Regions from separate parts of the Homo sapiens genome. Here region 2 is linked to region 1. The links come from fine-mapping of genetic effects on gene expression. Tissue or cell type: whole blood. Region 1 holds a variant in brackets; the other region holds the start of a gene. All regions are shown on one strand. Distances are between the middles of the regions.

Region 1 (8,100 bases):
CCACCCCTGGAGGGATATGTGTGTGGCAGGGGTCGAGGGTCTCGCCCTTCCCTGCTTCCTGCGCGTGGCTTTCTCCAGGACGGGGAGGGCTGAGCTGAAGAGGTGGGGACAGTTGCGTCCCCCCGCCACCCACTGTCCTGCGGTGAGAGCAGACTCACTGAGCCTGCCCTTCTCCCTTGTGCCTTCCAGCTACATCTACTGGACCGAGTGGGGCGGCAAGCCGAGGATCGTGCGGGCCTTCATGGACGGGACCAACTGCATGACGCTGGTGGACAAGGTGGGCCGGGCCAACGACCTCACCATTGACTACGCTGACCAGCGCCTCTACTGGACCGACCTGGACACCAACATGATCGAGTCGTCCAACATGCTGGGTGAGGGCCGGGCTGGGGCCTTCTGGTCATGGAGGGCGGGGCAGCCGGGCGTTGGCCACCTCCCAGCCTCGCCGCACATACCCTGTGGCCTGCAAGTTCCCCAACCTGGCAGGAGCTGTGGCCACACCCACGACTGCCCAGCAGCCTCACCCTCTGCTGTGGGAGTTGTCCCCGTCCACCCCTGGGTGCCTTTGCTGCAGTTATGTCGGGAGAGGCTCTGGTGACAGCTGTTTCCTGTGCACCTGCTGGGCACTAGGTCCCAGCTAATCCCTGTGCCAGGACTCTAATTTCACCCTAACACACATGGTGGTTTTCATTGCTGGGGAAGCTGAGGCCTGAGCACATGACTTGCCTTAGGTCACATAGCTGGTGAGTTCAGGATCCCCCAGAGATACCAGGGCCAGCACTCGATCCCCACCCAGCCCTGAACCCCACCATGTGCTGGGATTGTGCTGGGAGTGTCCACACGCCCGGGACCCCAGGGCTGGTGCTCTCATCTCCTTTTTCCAGATCATGAGAATGAGGCTCAGGGAAGTTTGAAAAAAACCTATCCCAAGTCACACAGCAACAGGAGCAGGATTTGAACCCAGAAAAGGGGACCGCACACTCTGTTCTGCTAGAGTAGTTAGCTGTCCTGGGTGATATGGCAGGTGACAGGGGCAACTGTGCTTAACAAAGGAACCCCCATCCCCCCTGCCAAGTTGGGAGACTAGAAGGTCAGGGGCAGAAGCTCTGAAGGGCCAGGTGCAGTGGCTGACACCTCTAATCCCAGCACTTTGTGAGGCCAAGGCGGGCAGATGATTTGAGCCCAGGAGTTCAAGATCAGCCTGGGTAATGTAGTGAGACGCCATCTCTACAAAAAAATTTTTTAAAAATTAGCTGGGCATGGTGGTTCATGCCTGTAGTCCAAGCTACTTGGGAGGCTCAGGTGGGAGGATTGCTTGAGCCCAGGAGGTTGAGGTTGTGGTGAGCTGTGATCATGCCACTGCACTCCAGCCTGGGCAATAGAGTGAGACCGTCTCCAAAAAAAAAAAAAGAAGAAGAAAAAGAAGCTCTGAGGCTCCAAGTCCCCAGGCACCCCTTGGCTTGAGGGCAGACAAGGGAGGAGAGGGTCACCTGGGCAGCCCTGACTTTTGTCCCCTGGCAAAGGGACCTTCAGTGACCTTGGCCCTAGGAGAGCCTCTGAGCACGTCAGCCATGTCGAACCGCTCAGGAAGGGCAGCAAGAATTTGGCTTCTGACCTCTGCCTCTCCTACTCGCCATCTGCACTGGGTGTGGTTGTGCCCATTTTACAGATGAGGAGGCTGGGGCATCGACCAGCTGAATGCCTTGTCCCAGGTACTGCGTAGGCAGAGCTGGCAGTTGAACCCCGTGTCCTGGTTGTCGCTGGGGGTGGGCTGCACCCTGACTTGTGAGGCCAGTAGCAAGGTTTGCACGTGACTTCGTGACCGTCACCCAGCTCTGCAGCACATCCCGTGACCCAGCTCATCCAGGCCGCATGCAAACCTGTTGCCAGGCGAGAAACCAGTCACCGCACAGCTGTGGTTGCCTGAAATGATTAAGCTCATTAATCACCCCGGAGTGAGGACAGACTCAGATGAAAACCAGCAAAAGCCCTGGAAACTCATGTGACCCTGCCAATGAGGGCGGCCATGTGCATTGCAGCCTGGCCGTCACTCCTCGGTACGTGTTTTGGACTTAAACGCTCCGGATGTTTACTGAGTGCTTGATTAATAACATGGAAGGCCTGGTCTCATTGCTGTGGGAGTGAAGGATGCACAGCCAGGCCTGACATGATGAGAACAAGAACCTGGAGTCTCGCTGCCTGGGTGGTAATCCTGGCCCTGCCACTTAGCAACTGTGTGACTGTAGCCAGGTCACTTAATTTTGCTAGATCCTGCCTGCGCTTCAGTGGATCTTGCTGGTTTTCCAAGGTGGCCAAACACTTTAAGGCATTCATGTGGTCGCTAGGCTGCAGGGTTGAACCCTGGCTCACCCCGCAGGGCGCCGTGTGCTCTGTGGCCTGGCTGTGCCTTTGCTGACACCGTGCCCGTGTGTGTTCATGCAGGTCAGGAGCGGGTCGTGATTGCCGACGATCTCCCGCACCCGTTCGGTCTGACGCAGTACAGCGATTATATCTACTGGACAGACTGGAATCTGCACAGCATTGAGCGGGCCGACAAGACTAGCGGCCGGAACCGCACCCTCATCCAGGGCCACCTGGACTTCGTGATGGACATCCTGGTGTTCCACTCCTCCCGCCAGGATGGCCTCAATGACTGTATGCACAACAACGGGCAGTGTGGGCAGCTGTGCCTTGCCATCCCCGGCGGCCACCGCTGCGGCTGCGCCTCACACTACACCCTGGACCCCAGCAGCCGCAACTGCAGCCGTAAGTGCCTCATGGTCCCCCGCACCTCACTCCCTCGTTAGATCAGGCTGGTTCTGGGAGCTGACGCTGAAAGGAGCTTCTCATCTGGGGTTCCTGGGTGTACATAGATGGTTGGGTAGGTTGTGCACTGCACAAGCTGCATGATGCTACCTGGGGGTCCAGGTCCAGGCTGGATGGACTTGTTGCTTCATCAGGACATAGATAAATGGCCAAAACTCCTCAGCTGGAAGGTCCTGGGCAGGATCTTTGGGTGTGAAAACCAGTCACAGGGGAAGGGTGCTTGCTCATACTGCCAGCACAGTGCTGAGTGCTTTCCATAGCGCTCGTTTACTCCTCAAGCCTGGAGGGTGGGGAGTAGCATGGTCCCATTTCACGTACAAGGAACCCGATGCACAGAGAGGTGTGGCAACCCATCCAAGGCCATACAACTGGGGTGGGTTGAGCCGGGGTTGACTGTGGCAGGCTGGCTCAAGAGTCCCTGCTCCTGAACCCTTGCCAGGCAGCCTGGCATCAGCTCGGGGAATTTTTGCCCTGACCCTTGGAAGCAGGTGGGCCTCTTTGTTCTCATGTCAGTGATGAGAAGAGTGACTTTCCTATGGCCCCTCTGGAGTACAGGTGTTTCCTGTTGGCGGGCTCTTCCCCCATGACATCAGCAGCGAGCTGGTTATGATTCCCTACGCAGAACTTGATAGTTTATAAAGCTCTTTGTCATCCAGGCCCCGTTGGAGTCTCACGCAGACCTGGTCGCAGGCGGGGCTGGTCTTGCCTGTCCCAGCTGCATGGATGGGGAACTTGAGGCTTGCAAAGGTTAAGGGGCTGTTCGAGGCCCAGGCTGGCAGGAGATGGGCCTGGGCCAGAGTCTGGGACTTCCCATGCCTGGGCTGTCTTTGGTCC[T/C]GTTGCTCACCATCCCTCCCTGGGGCCATGACCTTAGAGAGCCAAATGGAGGTGCAGGTAACCCACGGCAAGGAGGGGTTGCCATGACTCAGAGTCCCCGTCCTGTGGCCGGCAGTACCTGGTGCAACGACTTGGATTTCAGACCAGCCACTGTAGCCCGCTGACGGTGCGCTCGAAGTGCCACAGCTTCTGAAGCCAGGCAGGACTCAGGCCAGGAGACTCTGTTAGCTGTTGAGAGGGAGAGGCCAACGGATGTTCTGGTTCTGCTAGAGAGCTGGTTCTTCGGATCCTGGTACCAGTGCACTGAGAGGAGGCCCAGCTTGATTCTGGGGCTGCCTTGTGGTGGCATGTGCTGCTCACTGACACCCTCGAGGAGTGTCTTCTCTCGGGCTTGTTGACTGTGCCCGGTTTTCCGCAGTTCACTGGTGCACACATAGGCACATAGCAAACCGCACACACAGTCGTGGGTATGAGTTTCACTACATTCCACCACCAGTGTTCACTACCATTACCTGCCTTCCGTCTTAAGTGTTCATCATTTAAAAATAAATTTATTGGGCTGGACACGGTGGCTCATGACTGTTATCCCAGCACTTTGGGAGGCTGAGGCGGGCAGATCACCTGAGGTCAGGAGTTCAAGACCAGCCTGGCCAATATGGTGAAACTCCATCTCTACTAAAAATACAAAATTAGCCGGGCATGGTGGGGCATGCCTATAATCCCAGCTACTTGGGAGGCTGAGAGAGGAGAATCGCTTGAACTTGGGAGGTGGAAGTTTCAAGTGAGCTCATTTTGTGCCACTGCACTCCAGCCTGGGCAACAAGAGCGAAACTCCATCTCGAATGAATGAATGAATGAATGAATGAATGGCAGGGCGTAGTGGCTCACACCTGTAATCCCAGCACTTTGGGAGGCCAAGGCGGGCGGATGACAAGGTCAGGAGATCGAGACCATCCTGGCTAACACGGTGAAACCCGTCTCTACTAAAAATACAAAAAATGAGCCAGGCGTGGTGACGGGCGCCTGTAGTCCCAGCTACTCAGGAGGCTGAGGCAGGAGAATGGCGTGAACCCGAGAGGCAGAGCTTACAGTGAGCCCAGATAGCACCACTGCAGTCCAGCGTGGGCAACAGTGCGAGACTCCATCTCAAAAAAAAAATAAATAAATAAAAGAAAAATAAATTTATGATCTATTTCAAAAATAACACATGTACTTTGAAACAGCAGAGACACATATGACACGGAGAATGAAATTCCCCATAGCGCACCCCCAAGAGACAGCCCTGGTCCCCCCGTCTTTCCCGTGGACCTCCAGCGGGGCAGATGCTGAGCCGCCTGTTGTCGAGTGGCGTGCTATCCCGTCCTCCAGCTCCTCTGTGGCTTACAGACACCCACCTGCAGCCCTGTCTTTGCCTCCTCTAGCGCCCACCACCTTCTTGCTGTTCAGCCAGAAATCTGCCATCAGTCGGATGATCCCGGACGACCAGCACAGCCCGGATCTCATCCTGCCCCTGCATGGACTGAGGAACGTCAAAGCCATCGACTATGACCCACTGGACAAGTTCATCTACTGGGTGGATGGGCGCCAGAACATCAAGCGAGCCAAGGACGACGGGACCCAGGCAGGTGCCCTGTGGGAAGGGTGCGGGGTGTGCTTCCCAAGGCGCTCCTCTTGCTGGTTTCCAGGCTGCTGCCCCTGTCCTTAGCAGAGGGAGGAAACAGAGGATGGCTCTGGGTGAATGATGACTTGGGCTTCGATTATGTAGTCACAGGGTATGACCCTGAGATGCGTGGAACCCCGAGACTGTGATTATATGTAGAAACTGGGTTTCCCCGTTGTTTAAGTAGTCATGGTGGGGTCAGACCCCACAGGACTTTTGTCTTTTCAAGAAAGAAAATGGTCGTGTGTCATGCAGGGGTAGTTGGTACTGGTTAATCCAGGTTTATCCTTTATTTTGTGGGAACTGTACAGTCATTTCTGCTACAATGCTGTATATGCTCTTCTGAAAGACACCTATGCAAAATCGCACAGTAAAAATGACACAACTCATAGGGAAAGCGGGGCCAGGGCACAGCCCTCAAAATCTCCATCAATGACATGTAAGAAAAGAGAGGAACCTGGGAAATAGCAAAGTGCCTTTTGCACATTAAATGGTTAGCTATATCCCACAATACTGTGCATTCGTAAACGTTAATGCTGCAATAAATACGGCACTTCACCTTGGGAAGATCTGGAGTTGGCTTATGAGTGTGGAAGGGTGTAGCGCATGAGTTTTTGTGAAACACTGGAAGGAGGATTGTGGGAAATCAAATGGAAAGTTCTCACCCCAGGCGTGGAGAAGAGTGGGTCATGGCCCCAGCAGTGAGCCCAGGGAGGTCAGAGACGGAGGTGTGTGTGTGGGTGTGACCCTGCGCAGTTCCCTGCCGGCTGTAGTTTTTTGCATTCACTTAATGTTTCTCGTGGAGGAAATTGTGCATGAGCAAATGTGAAACCGTGCTGTGCTCAAATTGTCCTAATACATCATTGCATTGGAACAGATTGGCTTTTTTTTTTTTTTTTTTTTTTTTTTTTTTGAGATGGAGTCTCACTCTGTCACCAGCCTGGAGTGCAGTGGCATGATCTTGGCTCACTGCAACCTTTGCCTCCTATGTTCAAGTGATTTTCCTGCCTCAGCCTCCTGAGTAACTGGGATTACAGGCATGAGCCACCGCGGCCGGCCAGATTTGCATTTTTGAAACAACTGCTAGGCTGGGCGCGGTGGCTCACACCTGTAATCCCAGCACTGTGGGAGGCCGAGGCAGGTGGATCACCTGAGGTCAGGGGTTCGAGACCAGCCTGGCCAACATGGTGAAACCCCGTCTCTACTGAATATACAAAAATCAGCTGGGTGTGGTGGCGGGTGCCTGTAATCCCAGCTACTCAGGAGGCTGAGGCAGGAGAATTGCTTGAACCCAGGAGGCAGAGGTTGCGGTGAGCCGAGATCACACCATTGCACTCCAGCCTGGGCAACAAGAGCAAAACTCCATCTCAAAAAATAAAAAATAGAAAAACAAGTGCTGTAGCGGAAGTGAGCACTTTGCGGAGTCAGGCTTGTGTGGCCTGTTCCACAAATGATGTGCTCACGGCGGCCTCAGGCCCACCTGGAGTCTGCAGCATGGGGCACAACAGGTTCATTAGTGTAGAATTCCAGGACAGGCCTGGCTCCTAAGCAGCCTTCTTTTACAAAAACTGCAGAGCCCGCTTGTATCCTAGCACTTTGGGAGGCCGAAGTGGGTGGATCACGAGGTCAGGAGTTCAAGACCAGCCTGGCCAACATGGTGAAACCCCATCTCTACTAAATATACGAAAATTAGCTGGGTGTGGTGGCACGCGCCTGTAGTCCCAGCTACTCGGGAGGCTGAGGCAGAATTGCTTGAACCTGGGAGGTGGAGGTTGCAGGGATCTGAGACCATGTCATTGCACTCCAGCCTGGGCAACAGAGCGAGACGCCATCTCAAAAAAAAAAAACCTACAGAGCCACACGGCCTCTTTCTCCACCGAGTGTTGGTGTGGGAGCTTGTGTTATTGTGGTGAAATCTTGGTACTTTCTTGAGGCAGAGAGAGGCTGAGCGCCTGGAGAGACTTTCACATGGGTCGCCATGTCCGCCGTCGGTTTCGCTGTTGTGCTCCCCATCTGAAGGCTGGTGCCGTCCAGACAGGCTGGACGCCCCTTTCCACCAGATCCTTCCTCCCGCAGCAGTTTCTAGTTACGTTGTACTGTGAGGTCTGTGTCCTTGGTTGATGGCAAAAGTCAGCCGAATTGAAATTCAGAGCCATGCCTGGCTCCCTGGAGCTTCTCTCCTGGGCAGCTGTGATCATTGCCTCTGCTGTGGTGTGGGTGGTGGAAATGGATTCCTTTCATCTTGCTTGCTACAGGTGACTGTCACGTGGAGTCCTTTGGAGAGAGGGACGTGTTAATTGATGGATGTGGCTCCCATGCTGAGAAAGCTCCTGGGCGTACATTGCCTTAGAGTTTCACTGGAGCTGCGTTCTTTTATGGTGTCTGCTAGGCAGAAGTGATGAAGACTTGGAAGAAAACCCAGAAGGTTTTCCACTTAATTTGGAAAATGTGCTTTTCCCCTCCTGTGTCTTTTGCTAAGGTCCAGCCTCCTGCAGCCTCCCCGCTCTGTGGACTCTGGCTTTGATTCTTTATTAGGAGTCCCCCTGCTCCCCCAAAAGATGGTGTCTAAATTATCATCCAATTGGCCGAGGTTTTGTTTTCTATTAATTGTTTTTATTTTTTATTGTGGTAAATATATATAACATAAAATTTGCCATTTTAATTGTTTTGTTATTGTTGTTTTTGAGACAGGGTCTCACCCCAGTGCCCAGGCTGGAGTGCAGTGGTGCGATCATGGCTCACTGCAGCCTCAGCCTCCAGGGCTCCAGTGATCCTCTCAC
Region 2 (8,100 bases), 46 kb after region 1:
GATACCTCCTCCTCCAGGAAGTCCTCCCTGACTTCAACCTTCTGGTTAGGTTAGAAGCAAACCATAAGTGGAGACCTTAGGGGCCCACTTACGTTGGGCAAGGTACTATATGATTTCATTATAATGTATATGGCCCTGTGACCCACCTCAGAGTCAGGGATGGAGGAGCCTGGTGCAGATACTGGCAAATCCTTTGATGATGAGTGAGTATAGGGATGCAAGGGTCGGTGGGGGTGTTGGGTCCTCCCTGGGCTCCCCAGCACGGAAGGACGGACGGGAGCCCAGCCCTGGCTGCCCCCTCCTGCCCATGGCCCAGCCTCCCTCTCAGGCACCAGCCAGTCCCAGGACTCTCTGAAACCTTTCCTGGGCTCCTTAGTCCAGCTCCAAGCTGCCCCTCTGGCCCTGTGCTACACCTGGTGCTCCCTGCTCTCGCTTCCAGCCATCTTCTCTAGAGTATGGCCAGCCCTTCTTCTGCCCGGAAGCTTTCCTTGGCTCCCATGGTCTGAGCATAAACCCAGGTTCCTCCGCCTGGCTTCCAAAGCCTCCATGGTCCCTTCTGCACCTGCTTCTCGAGCTGTTGCCCCAGACCTGAGATCAGCCCCACCCTGCCTTCCACGGGGTGTGCTCCTTCCACCTTGCTGCCTCGGCCTCTTTCCCTGGCATGGCCGCTCCCGCCCTGCCCAGGTGATCAGCCTGTGAATCCCCTCCCTAACCCCCACACAGAGCACACCTCCCAGGCTGGCTTCCGGCTTGACTATGTTCCTCCATGCCTCTCTGAGTAGCAGGATCAATGTGAGAAAGGTCTGCCCTGTCTGCAGCCTCCCCAGAAGCACAGTACTTTTCGTGGCGCGTACACGGGCTGGTAGATACAGTTGTCCCTCTGTATCCGTGGGAGATTGCTTCTGGGACCCCCAAGGATTCTCAAGTCCCATATATAAAATGGCTTAGTACAGTTAACAACAGAGACGTGTTCTGAGAAATGCATCGTTAGGCAATTTTGTCCTTTGCAAACATCACAGGTATACTTAGCACAAACCCAGATGGTCTAGCCTACTACACACCTGGGCTATATGGGATAGCCTATCGCTCCTAGACTACACATCCATACAGCATGTTACTGTGCTGAATACTGAAAGCAGCTGTAACACAATGGTAAATATTTGTGTATCTAAACATAGAAAAGATCCAGTACAGCTGGGCGCGGTGGCTTACGCCTGTAATCCCAGCACTTTGGGAGGCTAAGGTGGGTGGATCACCTGAGGTCAGGAGTTCAAGACCAGCCTGGTCAACATGGTGAAACCCCCATCTCTACTAAAAATACAAAAATTAGTGGGACATGGTGGCATGCACCTGTAATTACAGCTACTGGGGAGGCTGAGGCAGGGAGAATTGCTTGAACCCAGGAGGCAGAGGTTGCAGTGAGCTGAGATCGCCCCATTGTACTCCAGCCTGGGCGACAGAGCAAGACTCCATCTCAAAAAAAAAAAAAAAAAAAGTCCAGTACAACTACAATATCATAATCTTATGAGACCAGTCTTTTTTGTTTTTATTTATTTATTTATTTTTTGAGACAGAGTTTCGCTCTGTCGTCGAGTCTAGAGTTCAGTGGTGCAATCTCGGCTCACTGCAAGCTCCGCCTTCCGGGTTCACGCCATTCTCCTGCCTCAGCCTCCTGAGTAGCTGGGACTACAGGCGCCCGCCACTGCGCCCGGCTATTTTTTTTTTCTTTTTGTATTTTTAGTAGAGACGGGGTTTCACCGTGTTAGCCAGGATGGTCTCGATCTCCTGACCTCGTGATCCACCCGCCTCCGCCTCCCAAAGTGCTGGGATTACAGGCGTGACCGCGCCGTGACCTCCTGTGGATTTTCATGGGACTCTGAGAGGCGCCTCAAATCCATTTTGGAATAAGGCAGGTTATTAGCATGGGGTCTAACCGTGGGCTGTCTCGGTGTCCTGGGCTGGCTCTTGGGGCGGGGGTCCTGATGTCCGGGACCTCGGTCCTACCTGGGAGGCACAGATATGGCGGGGAACGGGAAGCCCGGGGGAGCATTTAGAAGCTCGTGTGCACAGGGAAACCCTGTCTCTACAAAAAAATTAAATTAGCGGGGCCCAGTGGTGCGTGCCTATGGTCCCAGCTACTCGGGAGGCTGAGGTGGGGGGACTGCTTGAGCCCAGGAGGTGGAGGCTGCAGTGAGTCATGATCACCCCACTGCACTCCAGCCTGGACAACAGAGCAAGACCTTGTCTCAAAAAAGACCCCAGGCCAGGCGCGGTGGCTCACCCCTATAACCCCTGCACTTTGGGAGGCTGAGGTGGGCGGATCACCTGAGGTCAGGAGTTCGAGACCAGCCTGGCCAACATGGTGAAACACCCGTCTCTTCTAAAAATACAAAAATTAGCCGGGCATGGTGGCGTGCACTTGTAATCCCAGCTACACGGGAGGCTGAGACAGAACTGCTTGAACCTGGGAGGCGGAGGTTGCAATGAGCTGAGGTCGCACCACTGCACTCCAGCCTGGGGGACAACAGGGAAACTCCGTCTCAAACAAAACCAAACCCCAAAAGTTCTCGTCTAAGTCCTTCTCCCAGGACAAGGGCACTTATCTCTTGGCGGTGCGTCACAGGTAGGGATATTCCGCGATCCCTCACCTTGACCCCGCTACGAGGACAGCCACCTCTTTCAGGTAAAGAGATCGCAATGGGAAATCATTCTGATAAAAATTCCCCTGTGGAGAATGCAGGCATCGATCCCGTTACCTCTCACATACTAAACGAACGCTCCTCCACTTAAGCTGATTCCCTAGCCCGGCCTAACCTTTGCAGCCGGCGCATATTGTGGCTCACGTCACCACCGGTGTCCCCCGCCGCCCCCGCCCCGCCCGGCCAGCTCGCCACCCTATTGGATCCCTCACGGCTCCGGCTCCACGGCCATGATGGGCTTGGCTCAATTTAGTTTTAAAAAGCATTGGCCACTCGGATTGGTGGTCCGAAGCGTCCGTCAAGCGGAGGACCTGCTGTTGCTACGGCGTAGGGGGTCCCAGCCAGGTTTCTCCCCGTTTCTGATTTGTTTCTCAGGCTCCGGGGTCCTAGAGGTTCCGGATCCGTCAAGTCCATGGGAAAAGAATGCGCCCCTCGCGCTTGACTGACGAGGCTTGCGGGCCAATCGGAATGTAGTCAAAGGAGCCGCTAGGCGATCCAATAGGTAGTAGGGGGCGGGAGAGAGGGGCCAATGAGCCTGGAGCTGGGGGCGGGGGCAGGGCCGCGATTGGCTGAGAGGCGGCCAGAGGGCGGGCGGGGGGGAACTCAAGGCCTGCTTGATACGTCCGCCATTTTGGGCGCTTCGCTGATGGTGTCGGTGAGCGCGTTTCCCGCCTGAGCGCAACTAGCGGCGGGTCGTGGGCACCTCCAGGTAATGGGGGTAGGGGAGGCGCCGGAGCAGGCCGCGGCGCGGGGTGTGCGAGGCGCGCGGGCAGGCGCGGGGCCCCTCCACCTGGCCTCAGCGGCTCAGGGAGGGAACGTCCCGGCCCCTCTCCCCTCCCCCCCCGGAATTCGTCGCTCCGCGGGCCCGGGAGGCGCGGCGCCGAGTCCTTCCCGGCCGCTCCCCGTCCGCTCCTGTTAGCCGGGGGCCCCGCCAGGACGGGCGCCGGGAGCGGGACGCGGTCGGGGCGGCGACTTTGTGCCTCGTTGACGTTCGCGGCCTGGCGCGGCGGGCGGGCGAGGCGCGCCCCTGACCCGGCTCTGGCTCCAGCCTTCCCGCCCGCCGGCCGCGGCCCGCAGTCTCGCCCCCCGCCCGGCCCGCGCCCGGTCTCCGCTCCCGCTGGGCCTCCCGGGGGCCTCGGGGAGCGCGTCAAGTTGAGGCAGCAACTCGCCGTCAAGAGTCGCGAAGACCATTGTTGGACTCTGCTCTTCGGGAAACAAGTTTTGTGGGTTTCTGTTAATTCGCCGCAGAGTCATCGGGATCCACACCAGCCAGTTCCGAGGCTCCCAGTACCCTTCCCAGTGGCTTTTTAACTCCTGTGAGGTGGCTTGTATGTAAACTGTCTCGAATGCCTCCCTGGTGTATTTGAGCCGGGGGTGGGGGGGGTGGGTGGTCCTTCTTGTGGCTTGAAGTCCCTCCCTCTTAAAGAAGCCCATTCACTGTTTACTTGGAGGTGTTTCCTGTTGAGGTCCTGCTGGCTGTGATCACAATTTAGACTTTTTAATTATAGGTGAACGGGATGGGTCTTTGGATGTACCTCCGTGCCCTGACGTTTCAACCGCGTGACTTAATGTCATTTTCCTGGTACTTCACGTTTTCTCTGTGGGGCTTTGGGTCTGTTTTGCTTTTATGGGAGGGGGTGCTTGACAGGCGTTCCCTTTCATCCTCGCAGCACTTGTTGACGGGGTGGTGTCCTTTATTCGTGGGACGTTTACTTTGATTTTGTCCTCAAGGTCATGTTGCAGATAGGCTTCAAGGGGGACAGGGACTCCAGGTTTCCAACCACCGAACTGTGCCTCAAGTAGCAAGTGTATGAGACCCAGTTATGGTGGTGGTTGGGTTTTCCTCACTGTGGAGTGGAGTCAGTGACCACTTTTTAGCTCTGTGACCTTGGGCAAGTTACCCAGCTTCTCTTTTTTTTTCTCTGTAGTATGGGAATAATAATAAGTGTCCCAGCCATAAGTTTGTCAGGATAATTGCCCTAATACATGTAAAACAGCTAGAGCTGTGCCTGGCACATACAGTCACCTCAGTGGCTGATTAGTGGTTAGGCTAGTTAATGGCTATTATTGTTTAATTTAAATTTGATTTTTAAATGTTTAGGTACTATTGGGAAGTCAGATGAGCATTTGAGTCCCGACTCTTGGTGACTGCCTTTAGAAAGCTCTGTGTAAGACTCAGTTGGGCTGAAAAAGTAAAACTATAAGTTATTTTAATTTTTTCAGGACAGGGTTTTTGACCATTCCTTAAATTAGGAACATTTACCGGAGTAATTAATGAGTAGTAGCGCCTCATAATGTTTAAAGAGATGGTTAAATACAGAAAAGCCCATCACAAGCTTAAGTCGGGCTTTGTTCCTCATGTGCTTTTGGATACTAGTTTCTGGGTGACTGCCACCCGAATCAGTAACTAGGGTTTCTTAGTGTAAGTCCTCCTTGTTACTGAAAACTGTAAGGGTGCCGTGGATTGCAGTATTCTTCAGCAAAGATAGTTTGGGAAATAGCTTTTGTCCTGGAGGGATACTTTGGAAGGTATTCTCCACTTCAGCATGTCTGGTCAGGGAGTCTAGAACATTGAACAAAATGCCTGCACTCAGTCAGAAATAAACTCACAATCCTTTACCGCTTGCCCGATACTCTCCTCCATGGTGCTCGAAACCTTGCGTGCACCTTCCCCTGGTATTGTTGTGTTTACTTGGGACTTGGTTTGCTGTATTGGAGATGTGTGTTTTGATGGACTCAGTCTTAAGTAGAGATGAGTATCTTGCTGGTGGAACTTAAGGACAGGAAGAAGATTGTTTTCGGTTTAGAACTCTAGCCTTTGTGTAAAGTATAGCAAAGCAAAGTCAACAAGCAAAAAGTTGTTAGTTTCAATGAACTAATTGAGAATTTGAGAATCAGACCATAGCTGAGCAGAAAATGAATAGAAGTAACATTGACAGGATGAGGTTGCCTAGCTTTTTAAGATAAAGCTTTGGCCGGGCGCAGTGGCTCACGCCTGTAATCCCAGCACTTTGGGAGGCCGAGGCTGGCGGATCACTTAAGGTCAGGAGTTCGAGACCAGGCCAACATGTGAAACCTTGTCTCTATTAAAAATACAAAAATTAGTCGGTCATGGTGGCGTGTGACTGTAATCCCAGTTATTTGGGAGGCTGAGGCAGGAGAATCGCTTAAACCTGGGAGGCGGAGGTTGCAGTGAGCCAAGTCCAGCCTAGGAGACAGAGCGAGACTCAGTCTCAGAAAAAAAAAAAAAAAAAAAAAAGATAGGGCTTTGCACCTATTTGGTAGATTATGTGCTTGTTACAAATAAACATCTCTTTAAAACAAGTGTCACGATCGGTATTTTATTTCTATGACAACTTCCATTGTCTAGTTCTATATTTTCAGTATTTGAGAGGCAGCCTCTGTGTGTGTTTGTGTGTGTGTGTGTTTTGGTCTAAAATTTTACAGTATTTTACTAAATAAGAGTAAATGATAGTGAAAATAAAGCTCTTCTATCTGCTCAACTAAAACTCAGCATTGACTTGGTCCTTAGAAGTTATGGTCTGCACCCCAGTATTGGCTGCTACTTTTTCTAATGTACTGAAAAAAAGATCTGGCCTCTTGGCTTTAAACAGCTTTCATATTTCTTTCCTTTCTTAACTTCAAATGATTGTCTTTTGATTTACTCTAGTTCAAGAGTTCTCAGTTGGGGGTGGTTCCCCCCTCACCCCCCAGGAAACATTTGGCAGTGTCTGGACATATTTTTGCTTGTTACACCTCTGGGAGTGGGCAGTGTGCTTCTGGAGGGTAGAGGCCAAGGATACTGCTAAACATCCTACAGTGTCCAGCATAGCCTCCTCCCTGCCCGCCAGCAAAAGTATCCAGTCCCAAATAGCAACACTGCTGAGGTTGAGAAATCCTGCACTTAGATAGATGTGAGACTGGCCTACATTAGAATAAGCCTGCATTAGAATAATTAGAAATTTTTTAAGACCATGGATGTTGGACTCCACCTCTGGAAATGGTGGGATTGAGAATCTTATTAATTTTTTTTGAGATGAGTCTAGCTCTGTCGCCCAGGCTGGAGTGTGGTGGTGCCATCTCGGCTCACTGCAACCTCTGCCTCCTGGGTTCAAGCAGTTCTCTGCCTCAGCCTCCCTAGTGGCGGGGATTACAGGCACCCGCCACCATGCCCGGCTGTTTTTTGTATTTTTAGTAGAGATGGAGTTTCACATCTTGGCCAGGGTGGTCTTGAACTCCTGACCTCGTGATCTACCCGCCTCGGCCTCCCAAAGTGCTGGGATTACAGGTGTGAGCTACCATGCCCGGCCACGAGAATCTATTTTTTAGAAGCTTCTCAGACAATACTGAAATGCAGCTGAATTTTGGAACCACTGTTTTACACCACAGGTTTAGGGACTGTTTGTGAGTTAAGGGTTCCTTTCGGTGATCTGTGAACTTGGTCTTTGCAGTACCTAGATCCTGCCTTGGAGATTATTTAGTAGTGGGGATTATTTAGATGGTATACTTAACCATTTTTCAGATGCCTGAAGACTGAACTTTAGAAGCATTTGTTAATTGATTTTATAAAATATCTTAGGACTTTTTTTTCTTAACCTCATGAAAATACATTACCATACTGTGCTGAAACTAAGCAAAATTCTTAGATATTTAGAGTTTGCTTCTGTGCTGAATAATCTTACACTACTGTAATTTTTGAGTTAGTATCTTTTGCCCTCCTTTTGTCAGTCAGTGGTCAGGTCTGGTTTTAGATGCCAGCTTCAACTTTTTTTTTTTTTTTTCGGAGACAGTCTCACTATGTCACCCAGGCTGGAGTGCAGTGGCATGATCTTGGCTCACTGCAACCTCCGCCTCCTGGGTTCAAGTGATTCTCCTGCCTTAGCCTCCTGAGTAGCTAGGATTACAGGTGCGTGCCACCACACCTGGCTCATTTTTGTATTTTTAGTAGAGATGGGGTTTCACCATGTGGGCCAGGCTGGTCCCGATCTCCTGACCTCAAGTGATCCGCCCGCCTCGGCCTCCCAAAGTGCTGGGATTACAGGCGTGAGCCACCATGCCTGTTTTTTGTTTTTGTTTTTGTTTTAATAAAGACCTATTCCCAGAGAATTAGCCCTGGATCAGTTTACCAGTTCTGCCCATTGAGGGCACAGATAGGCATACAGTATGCTCAGCCTTTAACACAGTGATCCTGCCCACTGGTAAGTTGGACTCTTCTGTGCCCTAGACTCTGATCCCAGCAGAGAAGTGTTCTTTTCTCCTGGGGAGATGAGATGCAGTGGTAGAGAGAAGGGTAGATCTTTTTTGCTCATATTAAAATTTAGATTATCTAGTTTATGGAATGGAAGAATATTAGGAAAACTATAAATTTTTAGCAGCTAAATGTTAATATCTGAAGTTACAA

What was found. PIP is the estimated chance that this variant, and not a neighbour inherited with it, causes the effect.
Region 2: it holds the start of PPP6R3, and the variant in region 1 is fine-mapped to the expression of PPP6R3 in whole blood (INTERVAL, PIP 0.92).

What each region holds. Positions count from the first base shown.
Region 1 is chr11:68,411,247-68,419,346 of GRCh38, forward strand. LRP5 (LDL receptor related protein 5) reads left to right here. Exons shown (of 23, transcript NM_002335.4): 11 at 190-374; 12 at 2,443-2,766; 13 at 5,082-5,281. Among named protein-coding and RNA genes, the nearest start is that of PPP6R3, 45 kb to the right of the region's middle. RefSeq lists enhancers at 1,851-2,010, 6,953-7,876 and a silencer at 6,319-6,388. The variant T/C (reference allele first, on the strand shown) is at 3,661.
Region 2 is chr11:68,457,420-68,465,519 of GRCh38, forward strand. PPP6R3 (protein phosphatase 6 regulatory subunit 3) reads left to right here and starts at 3,333. Exons shown (of 24, transcript NM_001164161.2): 1 at 3,333-3,408. RefSeq lists silencers at 2,744-2,893, 3,204-3,573, 3,584-3,633, 3,684-3,793 and an enhancer at 3,004-3,063.